Linked DNA regions of Homo sapiens. The protein of the gene in region 2 purifies or fractionates together with the protein of the main gene of each other region. This does not show direct contact. Each region holds a gene or a part of one and is shown on either strand. Other genes may lie near its edges.

Region 1 (3,500 bases), on a different chromosome or scaffold from region 2:
CGGTAGTTCAAAATCAGCCTGACCAATATGGTGAAACCCCGTATCTATTAAAAATACAAAAAAATAAGCTGGGCGTCGTGGTGTGCACCTATAGTCCCATCTACTCAGGAGCCTGAAACGAGAATTGCTTGAATCTGGGAGGCAAAGGTTGCACCACTGCACTCCAGCCTGGGCAAGACAGAGCGAGACTCCATCTCAAAAAAAAAAAAAAATTAAAAAAAGAGTGGTACAACTCACTGAAGATAAAATCTGGGCAGAACTTTTCCAAAAATAAATTAGTTAAATAATATAGAGCATTTTGCAACAGTAGTCATTCCCAAGAGACTTCCAGCCTGGGGGACGCAGCCAGTCTACCAACTTATAGGGGCCCTGAGCCAGGAAATCCATTTCAAAGCCTACTGAAACAGCCCCTTCCTTCTCTCTTCCTCCTCTCCTTTCTTCACTCACTGTCCCTTTCCTTCTGTCCCGCTTCTCCACTGTCCATAGTCGGAATTGCCTTCCTTCCCCTACTTTCCCTTTTGCTTTATTTTCTTGATTAAGGATTTATTTTTCCAAGACCTAGTCTTGCTTTCACAGAATCTCCAGTCACACTGACTTTGGGGGCAGAGAGGACACTGCTCCTTCCCCCACCTCCACCCTGTGTGTGGCATCAGCAATTTAGACATAATGAGATGGTAAGCTTGACAGCTGTCTTTGAAATGTATGCCCATTATAAAGTCAAATGGTGAGACATGCATGTGGGCATGTTTTAAACAACCATTCCTAACAGTTTCATATAATGGATTCACTCATGTTATCTCATTATCTCTGGGCCTCTTTTATAAGATCAGAGAGGTTAACAATGTGGCCAGTGTATTCATTTGCCCATTGGCTGATTAAAAATGTATATGTATTTGGCCAAGGTCTCCCAGCTTGAAAGTGGCAAAATTGGGACTTGAACTTCAGTTCTTGGCACTGTGTTTCCTGCCATATTTCTTAGGTGAAGGGACATTTGGCCTTTGACTAAACTAGAAGCCAAATCTAAATAACTAAAGAACCCAAACAGAGTAAGATCAACTGCTTTACTGGGCTTACCAAGTGTCATTTAGGGAATTTTCCCATCCTTTGGTGTTAGAGCCAAATTTCCTCATCTTTGGGGGAAATTTTGGAACGTGACTTCTCACTTCCCAACAGAGGGAATTGCAAAAGTCAGGTGTTTTCAACAAGAACATTGAATCGATTGAAGACTTTGGATAAATGCTAAGTGGAGACCTGTGGTTCCATGCCATAAAGCATGGAATATACCATTTTGACCTGAAAAATATCGAAGCCAGTTGTTAACACTTTGCTGCTTTGTCCTGTAAAATCCTTTAGAAGAAAAAAACCAAAACCTGAGTAGTACCTGTAACTAATTTTAACTAGGTCTTAAGTCAGCAGTTCTCAAAGTGTGATCTCCAGACTAGCAGCACCAGGAACACAGGAACTTGCTAAAAATGCAAATTCTCAGTCTCCACCCCAGACCTAGTAAATTAGAAACTCTGAGAGTTAAACCCAAAAATCTTGTTTTAACAAGTCCTTCAGATAATTCTGATGCTGAGGTTTGAGAATCACTGATTTAAACCATCAAGAGAAAACTCTATTTGCCCACTCAAATGGGCAGTAGTATAACTAGAAGCCTGGAATCTCTGCATGTATGTGTCCCATATGCTCTGCAAAAAGGCACGTATTCTTAACTGGTGTTTTGTGATTCGATTGGTTGTGCTTAGAATTTGCTTGGTTCTCTTGCAAAATATCCTGAAGTTGGTTAAAGAAAGGATTGATCGTGTCCAGTAAAATAATGCGTCTTGTCAGTAGTTGACAAGGAGCCACTGTTGAGACCTTGCCGGATACAAAGCCAACTTCAAGCCTACTCTCTTTCCCAACATGTCAGCCTTAACCATCCCCTCTCCTATTTCCAGCAGAAATCTTTTCTCTTTCAACGTGTAATACCAATTCTGCCCCAAAGGAAAGAGAAGGCAAAATGAGCAGAATTTGTGGTTTTGTCCGTTCACTAGCGCTAATGCAGTGAAGGAGGGATGAAAACGCTTTAGGAGATGGTATGATTGGGAAGGATATTATGCCATGTACCATTTCCCTTCTTCCCCCAGTGCCAGCCGCTGATGAGTGGTTTCACATTCCTGTACTGGGTGGCACACAACCTAGTCTGTTTTCACTGCTAGCAAGGATTCACAGTGCCAGTCTGTTATGTACACCCAGAGAACAGGGGTGACAGAGACACCCTCCTGCCTTTTAGAAGAGATATTTGATCCATATTTTTCCTGCCTGGAATCGTGGAGACTCCTGTCTGGTCTGGCTGCAGCCTGACCCTCCGGATGCCTTCAGTTGTGGGTGTTTGACACATCAGGAAAGTCACAAGTCTGACTCCTGTGATTTGAGGAGACAGCTGGGAAACCTCCCTGCTGTGGTCCCAGCCAGCATAGGAGCATGACCCTACATCCAGGGATGGGCTTAGTCCAAATCAGAAATGCCTGTGTTCTCTCAGGCCTTAGCCTCCAGCTTCCCGACACTGAGACCTAGGGCATGAGAGCTTCCCTGCTGGAGTCCTACCTTATTCTCACCAAGTCACCCCCGACTGACCCTTTGGGCCTTTGGCAATAGTATAAATGGGTGTTTTAAACTTCTCCATGGGCAACCACCCTGCTCTCAGAAGATGCCCTCCATCCTCTCCAGGGTCTCAGAAGGCTTGGCTCTTCCAGGTGCCAATAAAAATGAACAGTGGGAGCTGGTGGCAGACCAGCAAAGGGCCGCCTCACTGTCCCTGCTGGACTGCTACAGCGTGGGTAAGGCCCCCATTCGTGGATCTCAGGCCTCAGAGGCCGAGGGTTCCAAGCACCCCAGCGAGGCTGCCCCCGAGCCTGGGAAGGCTGGCTGCATCCGGGTGGTCTCTGCCTAGCTGCTCCTAAGCTCCTGCCCTCTTCCTTCCAGATCACACGGCAGCAATATCAGAACGCACTCACTGCCTGCCACATGGACAGCTCACCTCAGTCCCCTGACATGGAGGCCTTCACAGACGGGGACTCCACTAAGGCCCCCACAACCCGGGGCACACCCCAGACCCCTAAGGATGACCCCGCCATCACGCTCCTCAACAACAGGAACAGCCTGCCGTGTAAGTCAGCTGGGCAGACGGGCAGGCTGGGCTGGTGTGGGGTGAGGATGACCCTGCCTTCCTCTTCTAGCCCTTCCCAGGGCTCACACCACCTGAGCCCTGGGTCTTCTCCAAAGCAGAGAGGTGATGCACTCACTGTCCTCCCCAGGCAGCCGCTCAGACGGGCTGAGAAGCCCCAGCGAGGTAGTGTACCTGAGGATGGAGGAGCTGGCCTTCACCCAGGAAGAAATGACTGACTTCGAGGAGCACAGCACACAGCAGCTCACGCTGTCTCCTGCAGCCGTTCCCACGAGAGCAGGTCAGGGAGGCCAGCTGGGCCCAGTGCAGCAAGGGAGATCATTGCCTTTGGGCA
Region 2 (3,500 bases):
CTGTGAATTTCCGTGTTTTCACGCCCACCTGCGTGTCTGTGAATTTCCGTGTTTTCATGCCCACCTGCCCGTGTCTGTGAATTTCTGTTTTCATATCCACCTGTGTGTCTGTGAATTTTCGTGTTTTCATGCCCACCTGCGTGTCTGTGAATTTCCGTGTTTTCACGCCCACCTGTGCGTGTCCGCGAATTTCCGTGTTTTCACACCCACCTGTGCGTCTGTGAATTTCCGTGTTTTCACACCCACCTGTGTCTGTGAATTTCCGTGTTTTCACGCCCACCTGCGAGTGTCTGTGAATTTCCGTGTTTTCACGCCCACCTGCGAGTGTCTGTGAATTTCCGTGTTTTCACGCCCACCTGCAAGTCTATGAATTTCCGTGTTTTCATGCCCACCTGCGGGTCTGTGAATTTCCGTGTTTTCATGCCCACCTGCGTGTCTGTGAATTTCCGTGTTTTCATGCCCACCTGTGTGTCTGTGAATTTCCGTGTTTTCATGCCCACCTGCGTGTGTCTGTGAATTTCTGTGTTTTCATGCCCACCTGTGCGTCTGTGATTTTCCGTGTTTTCATGCCCACCTGTGCGTGCCTGTGAATTTCCATGCTTTTGGAAATGCCTGTCTCTGAGCCATCTACTGTCCACAATAACCTTGGATTCAAGTCAACAGCAACAATGATAAGATGACAGCATCTTCCAGTATCTCCCACAGCCAGGCACTGTTCTAAGCACACCTGGGACCCTCTTAGGGTTGGTTTGCGAATGCAATCACTTTACACACAAAGAATCAGAGTGTGGCACAGAAGGGCTCCCGAATTCGCCTGCATGACACAGCCAGTGACTGTCAGTGCTGGCGACCCTGCCCTTTGCCTCGTTGTTCACTGTGGCCTGGCAGGGACAGCGGGAGAGGTGAGCCCCGGCCGAGAGCCAGTACTTATCAGTGCCAATTCTGCCCCAGATGCTGAGCTACCACTTTGCCAAAACTGTAATTCAACGTCAACATCCGAAGATCACTCCTCCCCAAACCTGGCTGAAAACAGGAGACGAAAACCACCATCAGGGCAGGCTGAAGGGAGAGGAGACAAAGACTCCAGTGCCCGGGGCTCTCCAGGACGCACCATCCTCTGCCTCCAGAGGATCAGAGCCACGCCCAGTCCGCTAGCACTCCGCTCAGCGTTCACTGCGCACAGACGGGGAGGAGACTTACCAATCTGCAACAGTATTGGTGTGACCAGAGCGGTTTCCATGGCGTAACAGAACTCCCTGCCAAACATCACCGCCCCGTGCATCACCCACAGGCGCATGGGGATTCGGTCTATGGACCCCTCGCTGATGGTCTCGCAGTTCTCGGCCTCTGCGCCTCCGGCTTTCTGCGGGTCCGGCAGGGGCACGGATAACTCTTGAACTTGCATAGATTCCGGGTCGGCATTCTGCGGAGCCATTTTCATTACCACCAAAAATATATGTATTTATCTATATATTCTATCTATATAAATAATGCTTTCATATATCTGTAATGATAAATTAAGACGTCTTCTCTTTCTGCTTCTGCTGTGTTCCTCGGGCAGGTAACACTTACATTCCTCTTTGCACAAGTGGCTATCTCACAACTTCTCACAACGGTATGAGACATGCAGCAACACAGAACGATTTTTGGTTGGATTTTAAACATATGGCTTGCTGGTTTACTGTGAATTAGAGTTAAAAATCCATAATTGCCATTCAGTTAATACCAGTTTCATCATTATTACTGAAGAGGTGCTGAAGTGATTTTTCTTGCTACAGAGAGGTGGGAAGGTGATACAAACAGGTGGTCCGCTGGTAATCCCCATCGAGTGACTGGATGATCTGCAAAAGAGGAAAACAACCCGGCCAGAGAGTCAGGGGACGGCCACCAGATGGCCCTGTGGACCGCCGCCCGACCCCCGAGCAAGCCGTGTGCCCCGAGGGCCCGACCCAAGATCACACAGCTCTCTGCCACTCACTCTGGGTACGTCTGTGCAAATAACCAAACCTACTTTCTAGAAAAACATTTTCTCATACGAAAGTGAATCCTGGGGAAGGACAAAGGTGGGGCAATCAAGGAAAGCAGGATCAAAGAACAGACAGAGAAAAACGCTGGAAATATTCACTCTTTGGCCAGTAACAATATCGTCCACCCTGTGTACCACAGCACGTAACTATTCCAGCAGGCTGGAGGCAGCTGGCGACACCCTTTGTGGCTGCAGATATCATGAAAGGGAAGTAAGGAGGTGAAGGGAAAAGTGGGGGAGGTAGGCAAAAGAGAATCAAAAGGGAAAACTTTTGTTTAAAAAAGTTTAATTTGTTAGTGACAAGGTCTCGCTCCGTTGCCCAGGCTGGAGTGCGGTCACACGACCATGGCTCTCTGCAGCCTCAAACTCCTGGAATCAAGTGATCTCCCACCTCATCCTCCCGAGTAGCTGCGACTACAGGCATGCACCACTACACCCAGCTAATTTTTCTAGGGTCCCCATTACATTGACCTGGCTGGTATCCAACTCCTGGGCTCAAGCGATCTACCCTGCCTCGGCCTCCCAAAGCACTAGGATTTACAAGTGTGAGCCACCGTGCCCAGCCAAAAAGGGAAACTGTAGACCCTGCCTGGAGAGGTGGAAATTAAAAATAAAAAGCAGCTGGGCACGGTGGCTTAAGTCTGTAATCCCAGCACATTGGGGGGCTGAAGCAGGTGGATCACCTGAGATTAGGAGTTCAAGACCTGCTTGGGCAACATGGCGAAAGCCCATCTCTACTAAAAATACAAAAATTAGCCAGGCATGGTGGCGGGCGCCTGTAATACCAGCTACTCAGGAGGGTGAGGCAGGAGAATCACTTGAACCCGGGAGGTGGAAGTTGCAGTAAGCTGAGATCGCACCACTGCACTCCAGCCTGGGCAACAGAGTGAGACCCTGTCTCAAAAAACAAAAACAAAAACAAACAAACAAAAAAAACAAAAAGAAAAGAAAAATGAAAAGTAGGAGGCTGGGTGGAATGAGCATAGCATGATTCTCTGTCCGGGGGGAGTTCGAAGTCTACCCAAAGGCACCTGGACTCCTGTGGTATTGGCCTTTAGGTTATAAAACCTCTTGGGAATAAAATGAAATTATAGACCTTTTCTCCAGAAAAAAATGTACGCATGTGCCAAACTCTGACTATAGTACCTAGGGGTTCGGAGACTCCCAACCCACACGCAGCTTTCCCAGGGTCTACGGAACCCTATCACCCCAACCCTCGGCTTTCCACCACCCTGCCTCCAGTGACAAACCCAGCTTGGTGACAAATTCCCCACCTGGGCAAACACATACAATAAAGCAGCAATAAGCTAACTGGAAATGCCACCTTGGAAATGTTTTAGGAAATGAGGTCAATCTCTCCTCAGGTAAGATAAGATCGGGGATGTGGAACACCCCAAGTTCAGGACTTCTGGAGTTAGGTCTCCAGACATGGGGTTCGGTTCAACTGAAGTGTTAGAGCCCCTAAAAACACACC
Region 3 (3,500 bases), on a different chromosome or scaffold from region 2:
AGTATACACTAGGTTAGACTTGGGGTAGTTACAAAGTAGGTCTAATGATAAAGTACTGAGTATGCATTGTTTGGTGATCTTCACTCAAATACGAAGCTGTGTAGGACTGTTTCAAAAACTAGCCCATGCAGATGGATTGTTTTTAATGTGCTACCAAATACGCTTGTATATGATGAGATACTCAAAAATTGCACCTGAACCTTCTTATTCTATAAAAATGGAGTAAATGATTCTGAAAGAATATATGATTTGGATCATTCTTGATACCCAGAGTTATGTTCACTGCCTCCCACCCAGAGTTCCTATCAGAAGCGTAGGCTGGATATTTTAAGAGGTTCTGAAAGTTGTTTCAGTTTACGTATAAGCTGCCTTTAAACAGTTAACTTCTTCAGTTCCCAGATTGTGGTCTCCAAATACATCATCTCCTCTAAAAGGAGCTTAAGAGTTTCTGGAGAAAAGGCTGATTGTAGGGCGGGATGCAGGACTGCCAGTGACCCTGGGGCTCAGGAGCCTCCTAAAGCCCACCCCGGGGCCCCAGGTGGAGCAGCATGAGGTCAGGACTACAGTGGAATGAAACCTACCAATATGTTCAACTCTATGAATTCAACACGGTGTTTAAAAAATGCACAAATCAGAGACAAATTATAAGATCACAATATGTGGTCCTTATTGAGCTCCTTCCTGATGCAAGCAAACTAGTTAAATAGAATTTCTAACATGAGACAGTTGGAGACTTGAATACTGACTAGATATTTGTGATGTTAAGGAACTACTCTTCATTTATTTTAGCTGTGATAATGTTTTTAAAAATAGTCTCTTAATGATACACTAAAATAATTATATCTTAGACTTCCTTCCAAATGAGTGGTATACAGGTGAAATGAGATTGGCTGTAGTTGACAGTTGTTGGTACATGAGGTTTGTATACCGTTCGGCTGCCTATATATTTGTTTAGTTTTCCTTGCTAGCATGTTAAAGAACTAACTTAAGTTTGGACCTGTAGAGATGGTTAAAAGCATTTAAAAATTGGCAAGTTTTTTCCCTTATTACAGGAAAAGGCACTAAATTTTAAATATGTGTTTTTCCTTTTAGGGTATTATAGGTCTCTATATTTGTTGATTAACAGCAAGCTTCCATCAAGTATTGAATATTCTGATTTATCTCGAGTTCCTATAGCAAAAATTTTGCTAGAGAATGTTCTAAAACCATTGCACTTTACTTACAACTCCTGTCCGGAAGGTGCGAGGTGAGACTGGAATGGATTTATTGATTTTGTCCTTTCACAAGATCTATATCTGATGGTAACTTTTACATAGGATGTGATTTTAAATATAGACTTGAAATTCAGGTTTTTACTTTATTAGTGTTGATTTAGTTTATAGGAAAGTGTACTTTTTCTTTCTGGCCTGTAGCCTAATACAAATTTGTGATTCTGATAACATGGTTATTTTCCTGCTTTTCTAAGTAACTGTCAAAAATTAACGAAAACATGGTAGTTATCTTAATAGAGAAGACATTAAGTTTACTTTAGGTTGATCTAGTTGATATTAAAATGGTTAACTTGGCTAATTTAGAAGAGTAGATTATCCTTTTAGAAGGATATTTTGAAAGGTGATTTTAATCAGTGATTGGATGGACAGTATAATTTGATTTTATAAAAAGCTTCTGTTTTTCTTTTTCAGGCAACAAGTTTTTACAGCCTTCACAGAGGAGTTTCTGGCAGCACCTTTTACAGATCAGATTTTTCATTTCATCATTCCGGCGCTTGCAGATGCGCAGACCGTTTTCCCTTACGAGCCCTTTCTGAATGCACTGTTGTTAATAGAGAGTAGATGTTCAAGAAAGAGTGGTGGAGCACCCTGGCTTTTCTATTTCGTTTTAACTGTTGGCGAAAATTATTTGGGTATGAAATACAAGATCTTTTTTACCTGAACACACATATGGGTAGCATTGGCAGATGAGTCAAGAGAAGGCCATGCAGTGGCAGGTGTTATGGAAAGGTGGGCCTCTCCTGGAGGAGTGTATTTGCTGGAGGGATGTGGTCTGGGCAGTGTGTTCCTGGGGACAGTTTCCAGATACAGTGGAAAAGACTGACATATATATGTGTCTTATGAGGCCACACAGATTATTTTAATAGAGTTAACAGAGTTAAATGGGAAAGCTCTTCTGTGAGTCAGGCCTGTTTCCCTCCCTCTGCTAAATTTCCAGTGTGCCTCTTCTAGAATAACATCTTCCTGTAGTATGTTTGAAAACATACATACATACATACATGCATGAATTATTCATGAAAGAAATATAGGAAAATGTGAAAACCAAACTTTTGGGGGTTGGGTGCGGGGGGGTATATAGAGTCTCGCTCTGTCACTAGGCTGGAGTGCAGTGGCTCCATCTCAGCTCACTGCAACCTCCGCCTCCCGGGTTCAAGTGATTCTCCTGCCTCAGCCTCCTGAGTAGCTGGGACTACAGGTGCACGCCACCACACCCAGCTAATTTTTGTATTTTTAGTAGAGACGGGGTTTCACTATGTTGGCCAGGATGGTCTCAATCTCTTGACCTCGTGATCCACCCGCCTCGGCTTCCCACAGTGCTGGGATTACAGGCTTGAGCCCCTGTGCCCAGCCCAAACTGTTTTTCTTACTCTCTCACTCAACACTGAAAAATTCTGTGAGCAGAAATGTGGGGTTTTTTTTCCCACACACCAAGCAATTCTTCAGTGGACACCAACTAGGTATTCTACAATTCAGTTCAATTCTGATGCCGTCCACCCGGAGATAATGTCAGATCCCATCATCTGAGGGCTTAGTCCTGCAAGACTACACCCACTTCAGAGGCCGATTACAAGTAGTAGGTTGTCACCTATACTTCTGACCAACCTGCAAAAATGGGGGTTCCTCAGCCCCTCCTTGGGATTGGTAATTGACTAAGACAGTTCACAGAACTCGGGAAGTCGAGGTGTGCGGGAATGGGGAGCTTCCATGCCTTCTCCAGGCACTCCACACTCTCGGCACCTCCCTGTGTTGAGCTCATTGTGTCTTCCTGTTGAGTTTTATGGTGCTTCTTCTCCAGTGTCCCTCCCACAGACAGCCCCTTGGAAGTTGGTGCGTGGGGCTGAAAGTTCCAACCCTCTGATCACTTGGTTTTTCTGGTGAAAAGCCCCATTCTGAGTCCCCTAGATGGCCTCACCATAAGTCACCTCAAGTATGATCACAAAGGGCTGGCTATGAATAACAAGAGACTCTTTATCTTTCAAGAAATTACAAGAGTTGTAGGTGCTTTCTGACATGAACGGGGACAAAATCTAAATATGTTTCCTATTATAACACAGTTAGAATTTTAAAAATAAGATCTGGTCAGAAATGCCTCTCTGCGTGTGAGGAAAAATGGCGTCTTCGTTTTCCATTTTAAAAAATAATGTTTAACTAAAATACGTTTTAACTGATTGTTTTGCAAAGGGGCCCTCTCTGAGGAAGGGCTGCTGGTGTATTTGCGGGTGCTGCAGA
Region 4 (3,500 bases), on a different chromosome or scaffold from region 2:
TGTCAGTAAGAGACAGAATTTAAGAACAATCAGTTTCACCAAAAGTCACTCATCACCCATGCACCCTCTGATGAGGGATAAGCAGCTTTCCACAGAGGCTTCTGGGCCAACTGGGAGGCACAGGTGAGAAAAGACGAGAAGGGCCCACGGCCACCGGCCCCAGCATGCAACGCAATCAATGGCAGCCAGCGTGCCCGTCAGCAGAGCAAGTGAGGGAGAGCAGCCAGACCCGGCCACAATCTCACTGGGGGCCCCAGCCTACAACGGCAGCCAGCGCGCCCCCATGAGCACAGCAAGTGGAAGAGCAGCCAGACCCTGCCACAATCTTGCTGGGAAAGGCTCTGTGAATGAGGCCAAGTTTGGTGAACTTTGTGTTTTTTCAGAGACAGGGTCTGGCTCTGTTACCCAGGCTGGAGTGTGGTGGCACGAATATAGCTCACTGCAGCCTCGACCTCCTGGGCTCAAGTGATCTCAGGCCCTCAAGTAGCTGGGACTACAGTTGTATGCCAACACGCCTGGCTTATATACATATATATATATATATATATATACACACGTATTTTTAGAGATGAGGTCTATGTTGCCCAGGCTGGTCTCAAACTCCTGGCTTCAAGGGATCCTTCTGCCTCAGCCCCCAAAAGTGTTGTAATTACAGGGACGAGTCACCACACCCGGCCAGTGAACTCTGAAAGCTCGGTCAGTAGGTGGAGGAGGAATAACGGCAGCAGCGGGCAAGGGAACACTCCCAGAAATCACGCAAGACCTTCGATGTGCACAGTGTGGCTGCAAAGGATTACAGGATTAAGGAGCCTGCCACCACGCCCAGCTGATTTTTTTGGGGGGGACGCAGTTTTGCTCTTTCGCCCAGGCTGGAGTGCAGTGGCGCGATCTCAGCTCACTGCAACCTCCGCCTTCCAGTTTCAAGCAATTCTCCTGCCTCAGCCTCCCAAGTAGCTGGGATTACAGGCACCTGCCACCACGGCCAGCTAATTTTCGTATTTTTAATAGAGACGGGGTTTCACCATGTAGGCCAGGCTGGTCTCAAACTCCTGACCTGAGATGATCCACCCGCCTCAGCCTCCCAAAGTGCTGGGATCACAGGCGTGAGCCACCTCGCCCGGCCTGATTTCTGTCTTAAGGTGATTTCCTTCTGAGGAATCCTCACAAATTGCAAAGAAGGAAATCCGTACCTGTTAGAAGCCACTCTGGTTTCCATCCAGGAAGCACCTGTATAAGGCTGACTGAGGGCAGGCGGATGACTGGAAGGAGAGGGCAACATTCCTCTGGAGTACCAGCCCGCCAGGGAAGCCCAGACAACTGTGAGCTGCGAGAGGGAGCAGGAACTGAGGCCAGATGAAAGGTAAAGGCGGAGGTTCTACCCCACACTGACCGTGAAGAGCCTCTTCACACAAAACCCTAGTTCTGAGCTGGGAGGTGGGCATGGGTCAGACTTCGGGCTGGACCGCTCCTACAGATAAGCCCGCCTTCTCCAGATGCCCTAGTCCTTGAAGTAGGTATAGCTTCAGGTGGGGAAGTAGACTGGTTTCAGGATCCAAAAAGGCGCAGGGGCTCACGCCTGTCATCCCAGCACTTTGGGAGGCTGAGATGGGAGGATCACTTGATGCCAGCAATTCAACCAGCCTTGGCAACATGGCAAGACCCTGTCTCCATAAAAAAAGTTTAAATTCTAGCCTGGCCAACATGGTGGCTAAAAATACAAACATTAGCCGGGTGTGGCAGTGTGCACCTGTAATCCCAGCTACTCGGGAGGCTGAGGCAGGAGAATCGCTTGAACCCGGGAGGTGGAGCTTGCAGTGAGCCAAGATCGCACCACTGCACTCCAGCCTGGGCGACAGAGCAAGACTCCATCTCAAAAAAAAAAAAAAAAAAAAGAAAAAGTTTAAATTAGCTGGGTGTGGTGGTGCACGCCTATTTCTCAGCTACTTGGGAGGCTAAAGCAGGTGGATTGCTTAAGCCCAGGAGTTTGAGGCTGCAGTGGGCCATGATAGCACCAGACTGCACTCCAGGCTGGCAAAAGAACAAGACCCTGTCTCTTTACAAAAAAAAAAGAAAAAAATCCAACAGACACGGGGACAGATGGAAGCGGCCACAGCGTTCTTTTCAGCTTCTCCAGAGTCAAGATGCTAATTACACGAGCATCAGAGCCAGCATGGCCTCCTGGTCCACTGAGACCCCATCGACTCTACCCTCATGGAGAAAACAAGTTACCACATCAGAGGAAAGAAGGCACAAAACAGGGTGGGATCAATGTGACAGGAACATCAAGATGTGAACGGCTGCATGATTTACCTTTCAACCTGTCATTGCTAAAGAGTGGAGCTGTTTTCACAGGAGACAGTGGTAAGGACGTTTTGCTTGGAGAAGGGAAATAATCACAAATTCCTCTAGCAAATTTCTCAGCGTCTTCTCTGGTAGAAAAAGCTTTAAATCGGGACCCTTTGATCATCTTGACAGCTTGCAATGCTTCCTTTTTATTTTCATAAACATAGATCCTTTCTGGGTAAGAAAAGTAACAAATGAAAATCAGAGAAGAGTGACTGGAGAGCTGTCACCTGGCCATGCCCTGGGCCTAACCATCAGCTTCCACATCTGCTACCCAGTCGCCTGGCTTAGTTCAGATCTTTAATCCTGAAGAAAAAGGGCCTAAGCTAGCCAAAATAGAACAATTAACAAGCTCGACAGTGTGCATATATGCATGTAACATGATATATATTATGTTCATATATGTAATTCTATATGCCAAGATTCTATCCTAAAAACTAAATTTCATATAAAGATCTAAATAAAAATTATTAAAAGGCAAATTAAAAAAAAAAACTATAATTATGTCAGCCAAGAACATAAGAGAATTTTAAACACAATTTTGAACAGGGAACGCCTTTTTATTTTTTACTTTATTTTTTTTTTTGGAGACGGAGTCTCGCTCTGTCGCTCAAGCTCAAGTGCAGTGGCACGATCTTGGCTCTTGCAACCTCTGCCTCCCAGGTTCAAGCGATTCTCCCGCCTCAGCCTCCCGAGTAGCTGGGATTATGGGCATCCGCCACCATGCCTAATTTTTTGTATTTTTAGTAGAGACGGGGTTTCATCATGTTGGCCAGGCTGGTCTCAAACTCCTGACCTCAGGTGATCTGTCCGCCTCGGCCTCCCAGAGTGCTGGGATTACAGGTGTCAGCCACGGCGCCCAGCCGGGAATGGCTGTTTTTTTTTGACATGGAGTCTCACTCAGCTGCCGAGGCTGGAGTGCAGTGGTGTGATCTTGGCTCACTGCGACCATCATCTCCCAGGTCCAAGCGATTCTCCCGTCTCAGCCTCCCGTGTAGCTGGGATTATAGGCACCGGCCACCATGCCTGGCTAATTGTTGTATTTTTAGTAGAGACGGGGTTTCACCATGTTGGCCAGGCTAGTCTTGAACTCCTGACCTTAGGTGACCTGCCCACCTCAGCCTCCCAAAGTGCTGGGATTACAGGCATGAGCCACT
Region 5 (3,500 bases), on a different chromosome or scaffold from region 2:
ATGTGAGCTGGGCAATTTCCTTGATCTTTCTAAGACTCCACTTCTGGATTTGAAGCAGGGATAACAGCACTCAATGCAGATGTAAGGATCAAATTAGATAATAGATGTAGGTGTCCAGCACAGTGACCAGGACAGGATAAACATTCTACAAACGGAGCTATCATCACTGATAGGATTTTTCCTCCAGGATTTTAATTTATTAAATAGTTACCTTATTGACAGGAATCATGTTTTTGACATTGTAGTAGAAGCCAAAATAAACCATGTTGAAAACTCCATGTCGTCCCAAAGTTGCAGTTAATCCTTTGTTGAGGCCCTGGAGTCCCCAGCCTTCCTTCTTAATGATTTGTCTTGCATAACCCACAGTGGATGGTTGCTGCAGAAGAGAGAAGCAAGGCCAGAATGATCATCTTTGGGACTGTGGAATACAGTAAATTACCGTATTAACTTCCCTTCAAGCCAGAATTATTAGGGACTTTTTTCCCCCAGATATGAATAATCATGCCTAGAACTGTGTTTTTTAAAATCAGCAAACCCAAGAAGCAAACAAAATTGCATGCATAAAAACAGGCTTTATAGAAAAGATTGTTGGCAAAGAACAAACGATTTTGATAGGATTAGTGAAACTGATGTTGTATAATAACTATCATCACTTTCAACATGTAAGTAATTACATCCAATTCTGGATTATTCACACTAATGAAGGAGATTAACCATATAGATATTTGGTAATCCATAACTATACATTATCCAAAAGGAATTTATATTTGGCTCCTGAATCTAGTGTATTTACCTTTCTAATTATGTTTTTCTAAAGCTAATGTTACAGTTTTGATTCAATTGCCTCAATGGTTGAACCTGGCACTATGTTATAAATTGGCCATAAATAAATAGCTGTTGATTGTACACGTCCTCAAGCAGATATGCAATCAGTGTGCGTATCACTGCTGTGATAAATTCTACATAAATGGTGTTGGGAGTACTTGGTTACCACCTTGAAATTACTCCTTTCCAGTCCCCTGATTGATTACCCAAGGCTGAAATGTCCTGACTGCTAGAATCCAGTCTGGCTGAAGAGCTCACTGCTGTTACCCTGAGATTTACAATTCATTACAATACAATTACAATTCACATGGGTTTAAAAAAAAATGTATGAGTGGTTGTTTCTTTTTTGAAGGCACTGTACAAAAGATATCTCTCTCATATTTTCACTGAATAGTTAACAGGGGAAACTGTTCAGTGCTTTTTTTTTTTTTCCACCCATGAGGCACACACTGACATGACATTTGTTTGATATTTCACTAAAGCAGGTTGTTAGCGTGGTTGTGGCAGTCTGGCACACTTTCAGACTAAAAGTATTTTCTTATCATGTGCAATTAAGGCTACATCAGCAGAATAGAATAGAACAAATCCCATCAAGGCTTTTCTTCCCATCTGCATTTATAATAGCTATGTAATTAATGTGAAACATTTAAATGAGCTTGTTTATATAGTAAATCCTATAGTCTTTGCTGATAAATGTTTTGAAGACTCTAGCTACAATTCTACACTCAACTTCATCCATTAATTTAAGGGAACTAATTACAATCAATTACAATAAGCTTAAGAAAACCCTCCTTTGTAATATGAAAAAACCATGGTAGAATACATCTTAAAACAATAAGACATATCATACAGGAAAACCAAAAAATTTTCTGAAGGTTAAAGTTTACTTTCTGTTTGACAACATGAGATTTTTTTGTGTTTCAGCACATTGACTTTCACCCCCAAATCATTATTTTTTGGTTTTCAAAAGAGATAGGACAAGTTGAGCAGAAACTCATTTTTGTTGGAAAGACCCTGGAAGTGCTGAGTAAACTGCCCAAGTACTGCTATCTTGCTTCAAGGAAGGCAGTCTAGAGGTGGGGGAAGGAGAGGGCAGCTTTCCTGGGGGTGGGAGGAACAGGACAGAGGTGAGGCTGCCTGACTAACACAGGTTCTCCCTGCACCCAACCTAAACCTTTTCTCCATCCTCACTCCTCTGAGGTCTTGAGGGCATGAGGGCGGAGGAGCTCCGAGGCCATCTAAGTTTTAGAGCAGCAGAGAAACCAACGGCTCTAAAATAAAGTGCAAATGACAATGGCTTTCCCTAAAAACATGGGTATAAAGATGTTTCTATTGTTTAAAAATCTTAGTTTGCTAAGTCATTAGAATTAGGATGACTAAACTAAGGATTAATTTGGATAGCATCTTTCTCATCATCTTGAAAAGAGATTTCTCCTAGATCTCGGTGAGAGCTGACAAATATTCAAGTGGCATTTGCTAATTGTCTGTTTCCTGATTTTCACTGGCTTGGGTGCTGTGTGTGTATAAGCAAATGTAATGCATCATTTTAAACTCAAGTGCTTTGTTGAGTTCGGACTCTAGTTGTCAGTAATTAATTGGAGAGTAGCATAGTAATTGGAAATAGGAGCTCAGAGCTAGACAGTTCCAAGTTTGAGTCTCAGCAATACCACTTGCTACTTTGGCAAGTATTTTATCCTCTCTGATTGATTCTCACTTTATTAATTTCTAAATTTCTAAATAAGGATAATGATAGAATCTTCCGGAGGTCAGTGGCTTCTGCAGTGGCTCAAACCTGTAATCTCAGCATTTTGGGAGGCGGAGGCAGGAGGAGTGCTTGAGCCCAGGAGTTCAAGACCAGCCTGAACAACATAGTAAGACCCAGTCTCTACAAAAAATTAAAAAATTAGCCAGGTGCTGTGGCAAGCCTGTGATCCCAGTTACTCAGGAGGCTGACTAAGGAGGCTGACGCAGGAGGATCACTTGAGGCCTGGAAGGTGAGGCTGCAGTGAACTGTTATCCTGTCACTGCATAGTGACAGGCTCCAGCCTGGATGACAGAGTGAAAGCAAGACCCTATCTCAAAACAAAAAAAGAAAAAAAAATCTTCCTCACAGGATTGTTGAGATTGTTGAAAGAAGTCAATGAACTTAGTCCACTGTAAACAACTTAGTCCATTCTAAGCATTCACTATACATTTAGGTGTTAACGATAATGGCAATTATGCTGACAATCATAAAAATAGTTATAACAATAAAATGACAGGTGATTTCTTTGTTAGTTGAAGGCAGTGGCAACCAAAAGCTGGAATCTGATTTGAGGGAGAGAAAGCTTCTTTTTTTCTTCATTCCTTCTGGCTGTCCTTTCCTTTTCCCAGAGTCCCAGACCTTTGTGATAAAGTCCACCAGAAATGCATGCAGAATGCAAGATAACAGGTCTGCTTCCTCTGAGACCCAACCAAATTCAATGCTTGGGGTAGAGATCTTGTTCCAGGTACAGTGCCTCACCCAGGAGCTTTCCTCTCTGGAGCAGTAAATCCTATAAATTGGCCTCTTCCTTATCCCTCAAGGTGAGTACCCTGGCTAAGATCTCTGCATATGGCAAGTCTGTGGGCTGTAGAAGTAAGGCCATACGGGAAGAAAGGCTGGCAATGGAAAAGCACATGAATTGGGCTTCCCC
Region 6 (2,882 bases), on a different chromosome or scaffold from region 2:
GGTAGGAGGAGAAGAGAGTGTATTGCTCTGACCCCTCCTCTGTCCGTGTCTCTGTCTCAGATGTCTCCACACTCCCTGACCTGCGTTACATCTTCCCACTGGGACCGGCCTTATTCCAGAGAGGTGGCAGCATTCCCACTCGTAAGTTCTCTGAATCTGAATGTGCCAGCTGGGAAGGCATGGGCCAGCTCCTATCCTGACGGGTGTACGCTCTTAGCCTCATGATTACAGAAACCATATGTGGGGCACCTTGTGAAATAAGGGTCTTGAAGAGGAATGAGGAGCAAAGAAATTGGCTTTCAGAGGCGAGGTCACACAGTATCAACCACAGATCTGGGAACCCATAGGGAACAGAGTGGGGGAAAACTGAATACGAGTCCTGCCCAGTGGACCAATGTGTTTCCCTCCACTGTGGGACAGGGAGATGGCGCCCAGTGCAACCTTCCTTTCCTTTCTGATTCTTATATGGAGGAGAAGGTTCTGTGTAGTCTGTTTGAGTGAGGTAGGGAGAAGGCTAAAAATGTGCCAAATTATGCTATGTGCTGTTTATGGATCTATGCAGTAATAGTATAAAAACATAATGAGAATGGTAAATCCTGTATTCATTGGAGAGGAGAGGAAACAAAATGATGCTTTTTTTTTCTTTCTTTTTTTTTTTTTTTTTTTGAGACGGAGTCTCGCTCTGTTGCCCAGGCTGGAGTGCAGTGGCATGATCCTGGGTTCACGCCATTCTCCTACCTCAGCCTCCCGCTGGGACTACAGGCGCCTGCCACCATGCCCGGGTAATTTTTTGTATTTTTAGTAGAGACGGGGTTTCACTGTGTTAGCCAGGAAGGTCTTGATCTCCTGAACTCGTGATCCGCCCACCCCGGCCTCCCAAAGTGCTGGGATTACAGGCGTGAGCCATCACGCCCAGCTGATGCTTTTTTTTTAATCGTTCAAATTTTTATTTTAATACACAGTATGAGAAATTAACTTTTTTTTTTTTTTGAGATAGAGTTTTACTCTTGTTGTCCAGGCTGGAGTGCAATGGCACCATCTCGGCTCACCACAACCTCTGCCTCCCAGGTTAAAGCGATTCTCCTACCTTAGCCTCCCAAGTAACTGGGATTACAGGCATGTGCCACCATGCCTGGCTAATTTTGCATTTTTAGTAGAGATGGGGTTTCTCCATGTCGATCAGGCTGGTCTCGAACCTCTGACCTCAGCTGATCTGCCTGCCTTGGCCTCCCAAAGTTCTGGGATTAAAGGCACGAGCCACTGCGCCCAGCCGAGAAATTAACTTTTAAATCAACTGAATTGTATGGAAAATGACATAGCAAATAAATTAGACCTATGTTAAAAGAGAAGGTCAGCTAAATATCCAAACTTAAGGATATAATGGGCAGATAAACATAGATTCCAAAGTCTTCTTTAAGCAGTTGAAGTCTTTCAAACACAACTTTGCTATAAACTGGTCCAGATATCAACAGCACATAGGGATGCTTAACAGGGGTGGTGATCAGGGACACGCCTCCTGGGAAATGCCTCTTTTTTTTAAATGGTAATGTAGGGTTGGATTTTAGGTTCTCAGAATATTTGCTGGGCTGATGGTGTCTTAGGTTGTGGGACTAGCATTGCCACCTCCTTTGCCCTAAGAGAAACCTCCCAGAACATCTCACAGCATTTCCATCTTTTGTCCTTTGCAGCCCTTCGTGAAACCAGAGAACAAATTCTGGCCAACGATTGCCCGGATTGATGACATATATGGAGATCAGCACCTGGTTTGTACCTGCCCACCCATGGAAGTTTATGAGTCTCCATTTTCTGAACAAAAGAGGGCGTCTTCTTAGTCCTCTGTCCCTAAGTTTAAAGGACTGATTTGATGCCTCTCCCCAGAGCATTTGATAAGCAAGAAAGATTTCATCTCCCACCCCAGCCTCAAGTAGGAGTTTTATATACTGTGTATATCTCTGTAATCTCTGTCAAGGTAAATGTAAATACAGTAGCTGGAGGGAGTCGAAGCTGATGGTTGGAAGACGGATTTGCTTTGGTATTCTGCTTCCACATGTGCCAGTTGCCTGGATTGGGAGCCATTTTGTGTTTTGCGTAGAAAGTTTTAGGAACTTTAACTTTTAATGTGGCAAGTTTGCAGATGTCATAGAGGCTATCCTGGAGACTTAATAGACATTTTTTTGTTCCAAAAGAGTCCATGTGGACTGTGCCATCTGTGGGAAATCCCAGGGCAAATGTTTACATTTTGTATACCCTGAAGAACTCTTTTTCCTCTAATATGCCTAATCTGTAATCACATTTCTGAGTGTTCTCCTCTTTTTCTGTGTGAGGTTTTTTTTTTTTTAATCTGCATTTATTAGTATTCTAATAAAAGCATCTTGATCGGAAGAATGCCTTTCTCTTGGTGTACTTTATAGTTTTACCACCGTTACAACCTAGATTCAGTGGGAGCTGAAGGGCAATGAGAACACCCAACCCAATAGCCATTGTTACATCATCAGTTTTGCCTTCGACTGGCTGAAGAAACAGTTGTCTTGGTCAACAGTGAAAACCACTTTGACCCTTTTTGTTGGAACTGAGTTAGAGTGCATGTAACTGTACTCCAGCTATGGAAGGTCAATCAAATAGCAATTTATCTTTTCTCATTTAAGTCCAGAGGTAATAAGCCAAGCACTGGTGCTCCTTCAGTTTTCCCGCTCTGCCCTCCTTTGCATAAAATTTTCATCCGCATGGTCTCAAGAAGGCTGTTGCATTTCCAGGCGTCTGACATACCCATTCTAGTTAGGATTAAAAGGGAAGAGCAAAGGCCAGGCGCGGTGGCTCATGCCTGTAATCCCAGCACTTTGGGAGGCTGAGGCGGGAGGATCACCTGAGGTCAGGAGTTGGAG
Region 7 (3,500 bases), on a different chromosome or scaffold from region 2:
CCACCTCCCGGGTTCAAGCGATTGTCATGCCTCAGCCTCCTGAGTACCTGGAATTACAGGCGCATGCCACTGCACCTGACTAATTTCGTATTTTTAGTAGAGACAGAGTTTCACCACGTTGGCCAGGCTGGCCTCAAACTCCTGACCTCAAGTGATCCACCTGCCTCGGCCCGCCAAAGTGCTGGGATTACAGATGTGAGCCACAGCACTTGGCCCAAGTTATGTCTTGTATAGATATCCTACAAATGTTATCAGATTTAGGTACTTTCCTTTTTTCACATAAAATTTCCTTGCCTTACAAACACCTGGCTGAGCACATGATGGCTCACGCCTGGAATCCCAGCACTTTGGGAGGCCGAGGTGGGTGGATCACTTGAGGTCAGGAGTTCGAGACCAGCCTGGCCAACATGGTGCAACCCCGTCTCTACTAAAAATACAAAAATTAGCCGGGCGCGGTGGCACACATGCTGTAGTACCAGCTACTCGGGAGGCTGAGGCAGGAGAATCACAAAACAAAACAAAACAAACACCCCCCTTGCCAGGCTGGGCATTGTGGTTCACAACTATAATCCTGGCACTGTGGGAGGCTGAGGTGGGAGGATTGCTTGAGCCCAGGAGTTCAAGACCAGCCTGGGCAACATGGTGAAACCCCATCTGTACAAAAAATACAAAAATTAGCCGGGCATGGTGGCATGTGCCTGTAGTCCTACCTAACCAAAAAGTTGAAGTGGGAGGATCGCCTGAACCCAGGAGGCAGAGGTTACAGTGAGCCGAAAACACGCTACTGTACTCCAGGCTGGGTGACAGAGTAGGACCCTACCTTAAAAAAAAAAAAAAAAAAAAACCACACCCACCTTGCAGCATAGCACTATTGTAGCTAACATGATGAATCTGATTCTCCTATAGGCAAACAAGGAGAAAAAGCATCTTACCATGACGAGCACCACCCCCAAGGCCAGACAGCTATTAACACAATGAAGGGTATATTTCAGTATATGAAAGTTCTTTCAGTTCTGAACAATGTTCATTTCTTAGACTGGATACTCCCACTGCCACAGCAAAAAGCCTAAAACCCTGCTTTCTAAACAGAATTTTAACGAGAAGTGCAAAAACGGACTGAAGGATAAATTGTTGTGTTCTGTACATTGCCGCATTGTGTTTTCCAGAATACTGAAAAACCCCTAACTGAAAGAATGTTTGCACAATGATTAACAAGGCTTTGTCTGACAGGAGGAAATAGGAATGGGAGATGATCATTTATGTATCCACCGTAACTGGACACAGGGCACTCAGGTGGTTTGTTTTGCATATCCATCTTCCCCCTCAGGAACCCTGCCCAAGAACAAACAGCTCAGCTTTTTGTCCACCGCTGTAGTCCCAGCTGCTGGAACAAATACTGGGAAATGCTTCATTATATCAGTTTGGTACATCAGATTTAGGTACTTCCCTTTTTTCACATAAAACTTCCTTGACTTATAAACACCTAGCTGAGCATGGTGGCTCATGACTGTAATTCCAGCACTTTGGGAGGCCAAGGCGGGTGGATCACTTGAGGTCAGGAGTTCGAGACCAGCCTGGCCAACATGGTGAAACCCCATTTCCACTAAAAATACAAAAATTAGCCAGGTGTGGTGGCACACACGCTGTAGTACCAGCTACTCAGGAGGCTGAGGCAGGAGAATCTTATTACGGGATCGTCCCGATTTTCATATGAATGCTGTCATTTCTTCAGTCTTACACAAACACTGTCTACCATGCTATCATTCTTTGGTCCTCCCTACTTTTCTGCTCTCCTTCATTCCAAGCCTAAAAAGAGCTCTCCACTCACTGTTACCACTTCCTCACCTCTCAGCCTCTCTTAGTCCCACTCAGTAAGGTTTTGTTCCTATCACACCACCTCATCAAGGTCACCAACAACCTGCATGTTGCCAACACCAATGCACACACATATCTGAGGTCTCATCTTACTTGACGTCTCAGCAGCATGACACAGTTGATCCTTCTCTCCTTGAAACACTCTTCACTGGGCTTTTGGGACCGTGATTTTTTTCCTATTTCTCTGGTTTCTTCTCAGTCTCTATTTGTGAATTCTCCTTTGCTTCCTAACTGTGGATTCTTGCCATGCCCAGGGTTCAGATCTCTTCTCTACCTATAAACTCTCCCCAGAGATGCTTATCCAGTCCCATGGCTTTAAAGAACCATCCACTGATGACTCCTTCATTGCTCCTCCAGGGGCCAGCTACCCAATGGCCCCATTTTGAGTCCTCTCAAACTGAGTCTGTAGAAGACAGGATTCCCGACCCTCTCTAACTCACCTTCAATCTGCTCCTGCCCGAGTTCTCTATCCATAGGAGAGACTAGCCAGATGTTTACCAAATGCACTTCCTCTTCTGGACACCTGTTAGACTAAATTTCCCAGCCTCCTGTGCAGCAAGGTGTGGCCATGAGACTAAGTGTGAACCAATGAAATCTGAGGATCATTCGGGCTTCCCAGGCATTCACCTCCAAGCTTACCCCCACCAGCCAGCTTGATGCAGACAAACATGCCGACTGTGGGAAGTATTAAAGATGGCAGGAAGGCCAGGCGTGGTGGCTCACACCTGTAATCCTAATACTTTGGGAGGCCAAGGTGGAGGAATTGCCTGAGCTCAGGAGTTTGAGACCAGCCTGGGCAACACGGTAAAACCCAGTAGCTACTAAAATCCAAAAAATTAGATGGGCGTGGTGGTGTGCCCCTGTAATCCCAGCTACTGGGGAGGCTGAGGCAGGAGAATTGCTTGAACCTGGGAGGCAGAGGTTGCAGTGAGCCGAGATCACGCCATTGCACTCCAGCCTGGGTAACAGAGCAAGACTCTATCTCCAAAAAAAAAAAAAAAAAAAAAAAAGACGGCAGGAGACTGGGTCCCTGAACATTGCTTGGAGAACAGCTGCCCTGCCAATCAGGAACACCCAATGCAGCTTTACAAGAGTGAGAAACTTCTACGGTGTTAAGCCACTGAGAATGCTGGAGTTTATCTGTTACAGTACCAACATTACTATAATTAACACAACAGGTCAAAAAAAGGTACCACCGTTCATCCAGCCACTCAGGTACAACCCCCTTTTTTTTTTTTTCCCAGAGATGGGGTCTCGCTTTGCTGCCCAGGCTCAAGTGCAGTGGCATGATCATAGCTCACCGCTGCCTCAAATTTCTGGGCTCAAGGCATCCTCTCACCTCAGCCTCCTGAGTAGCTAGGACTACAGGTGTGCACCAGCACACTTAGCTAATTTTTAAATATTTGTGGAGATAAATAAGGTCTTGCCATCTGGCCTAGGCTGGTCTCAAACTCCTGGATTCAAGTGATCCTCCCACCTCAGCCTCCCAAAGTTCTGGGATTACAGGCATGAGCCACTGCACCAGGCCAGGACTCGTTTTTGTTTTGTTTTGTTTTGTTTTTGAGATGCAGTCTCGCTCCGTCACCCAGGCTGGAGTTCAGTGGCGTGATCTCAACTCACTGCAA

Evidence for each region.
Region 1: the proteins of SLC45A4 (region 2) and CNNM1 purify together in Homo sapiens (affinity purification with mass spectrometry; one large-scale study listed by BioGRID and IntAct). This does not show direct contact.
Region 3: the proteins of SLC45A4 (region 2) and UBE3C purify together in Homo sapiens (affinity purification with mass spectrometry; one large-scale study listed by BioGRID and IntAct). This does not show direct contact.
Region 4: the proteins of SLC45A4 (region 2) and ANKLE2 purify together in Homo sapiens (affinity purification with mass spectrometry; one large-scale study listed by BioGRID and IntAct). This does not show direct contact.
Region 5: the proteins of SLC45A4 (region 2) and SLC25A21 purify together in Homo sapiens (affinity purification with mass spectrometry; one large-scale study listed by BioGRID and IntAct). This does not show direct contact.
Region 6: the proteins of SLC45A4 (region 2) and GLDC purify together in Homo sapiens (affinity purification with mass spectrometry; one large-scale study listed by BioGRID and IntAct). This does not show direct contact.
Region 7: the proteins of SLC45A4 (region 2) and PISD purify together in Homo sapiens (affinity purification with mass spectrometry; one large-scale study listed by BioGRID and IntAct). This does not show direct contact.

The regions. Positions count from the first base shown.
Region 1 is NC_000010.11:99,384,856-99,388,355, forward strand, and holds part of CNNM1 (metal transporter CNNM1), read left to right. Parts: intron 1-2,964; coding exon 2,965-3,148; intron 3,149-3,296; coding exon 3,297-3,446; intron 3,447-3,500. UniProt on the Homo sapiens protein: Probable metal transporter.
Region 2 is NC_000008.11:141,252,789-141,256,288, forward strand, and holds part of SLC45A4 (solute carrier family 45 member 4), read right to left. Parts: intron 1,984-3,500; exon of another isoform or gene 1,842-1,983; 5' UTR 1,442-1,841; coding exon 1,201-1,441; intron 1-1,200. UniProt on the Homo sapiens protein: Proton-associated sucrose transporter. May be able to transport also glucose and fructose.
Region 3 is NC_000007.14:157,180,426-157,183,925, forward strand, and holds part of UBE3C (ubiquitin-protein ligase E3C), read left to right. Parts: intron 1-1,092; coding exon 1,093-1,246; intron 1,247-1,682; coding exon 1,683-1,903; intron 1,904-3,452; coding exon 3,453-3,500. UniProt on the Homo sapiens protein: E3 ubiquitin-protein ligase that specifically catalyzes 'Lys-29'- and 'Lys-48'-linked polyubiquitin chains.
Region 4 is NC_000012.12:132,748,333-132,751,832, forward strand, and holds part of ANKLE2 (ankyrin repeat and LEM domain-containing protein 2), read right to left. Parts: intron 2,518-3,500; coding exon 2,311-2,517; intron 1-2,310. UniProt on the Homo sapiens protein: Involved in mitotic nuclear envelope reassembly by promoting dephosphorylation of BAF/BANF1 during mitotic exit.
Region 5 is NC_000014.9:36,711,107-36,714,606, forward strand, and holds part of SLC25A21 (mitochondrial 2-oxodicarboxylate carrier), read right to left. Parts: intron 377-3,500; coding exon 212-376; intron 1-211. UniProt on the Homo sapiens protein: Transports dicarboxylates across the inner membranes of mitochondria by a counter-exchange mechanism.
Region 6 is NC_000009.12:6,531,967-6,534,848, reverse strand, and holds the end of GLDC (glycine dehydrogenase (decarboxylating), mitochondrial precursor), read left to right. Parts: intron 1-60; coding exon 61-141; intron 142-1,688; coding exon 1,689-1,832; 3' UTR 1,833-2,382; downstream 2,383-2,882. UniProt on the Homo sapiens protein: The glycine cleavage system catalyzes the degradation of glycine.
Region 7 is NC_000022.11:31,652,216-31,655,715, forward strand, and holds part of PISD (phosphatidylserine decarboxylase proenzyme, mitochondrial), read right to left. Parts: intron 1-3,500. UniProt on the Homo sapiens protein: Catalyzes the formation of phosphatidylethanolamine (PtdEtn) from phosphatidylserine (PtdSer). Plays a central role in phospholipid metabolism and in the interorganelle trafficking of phosphatidylserine.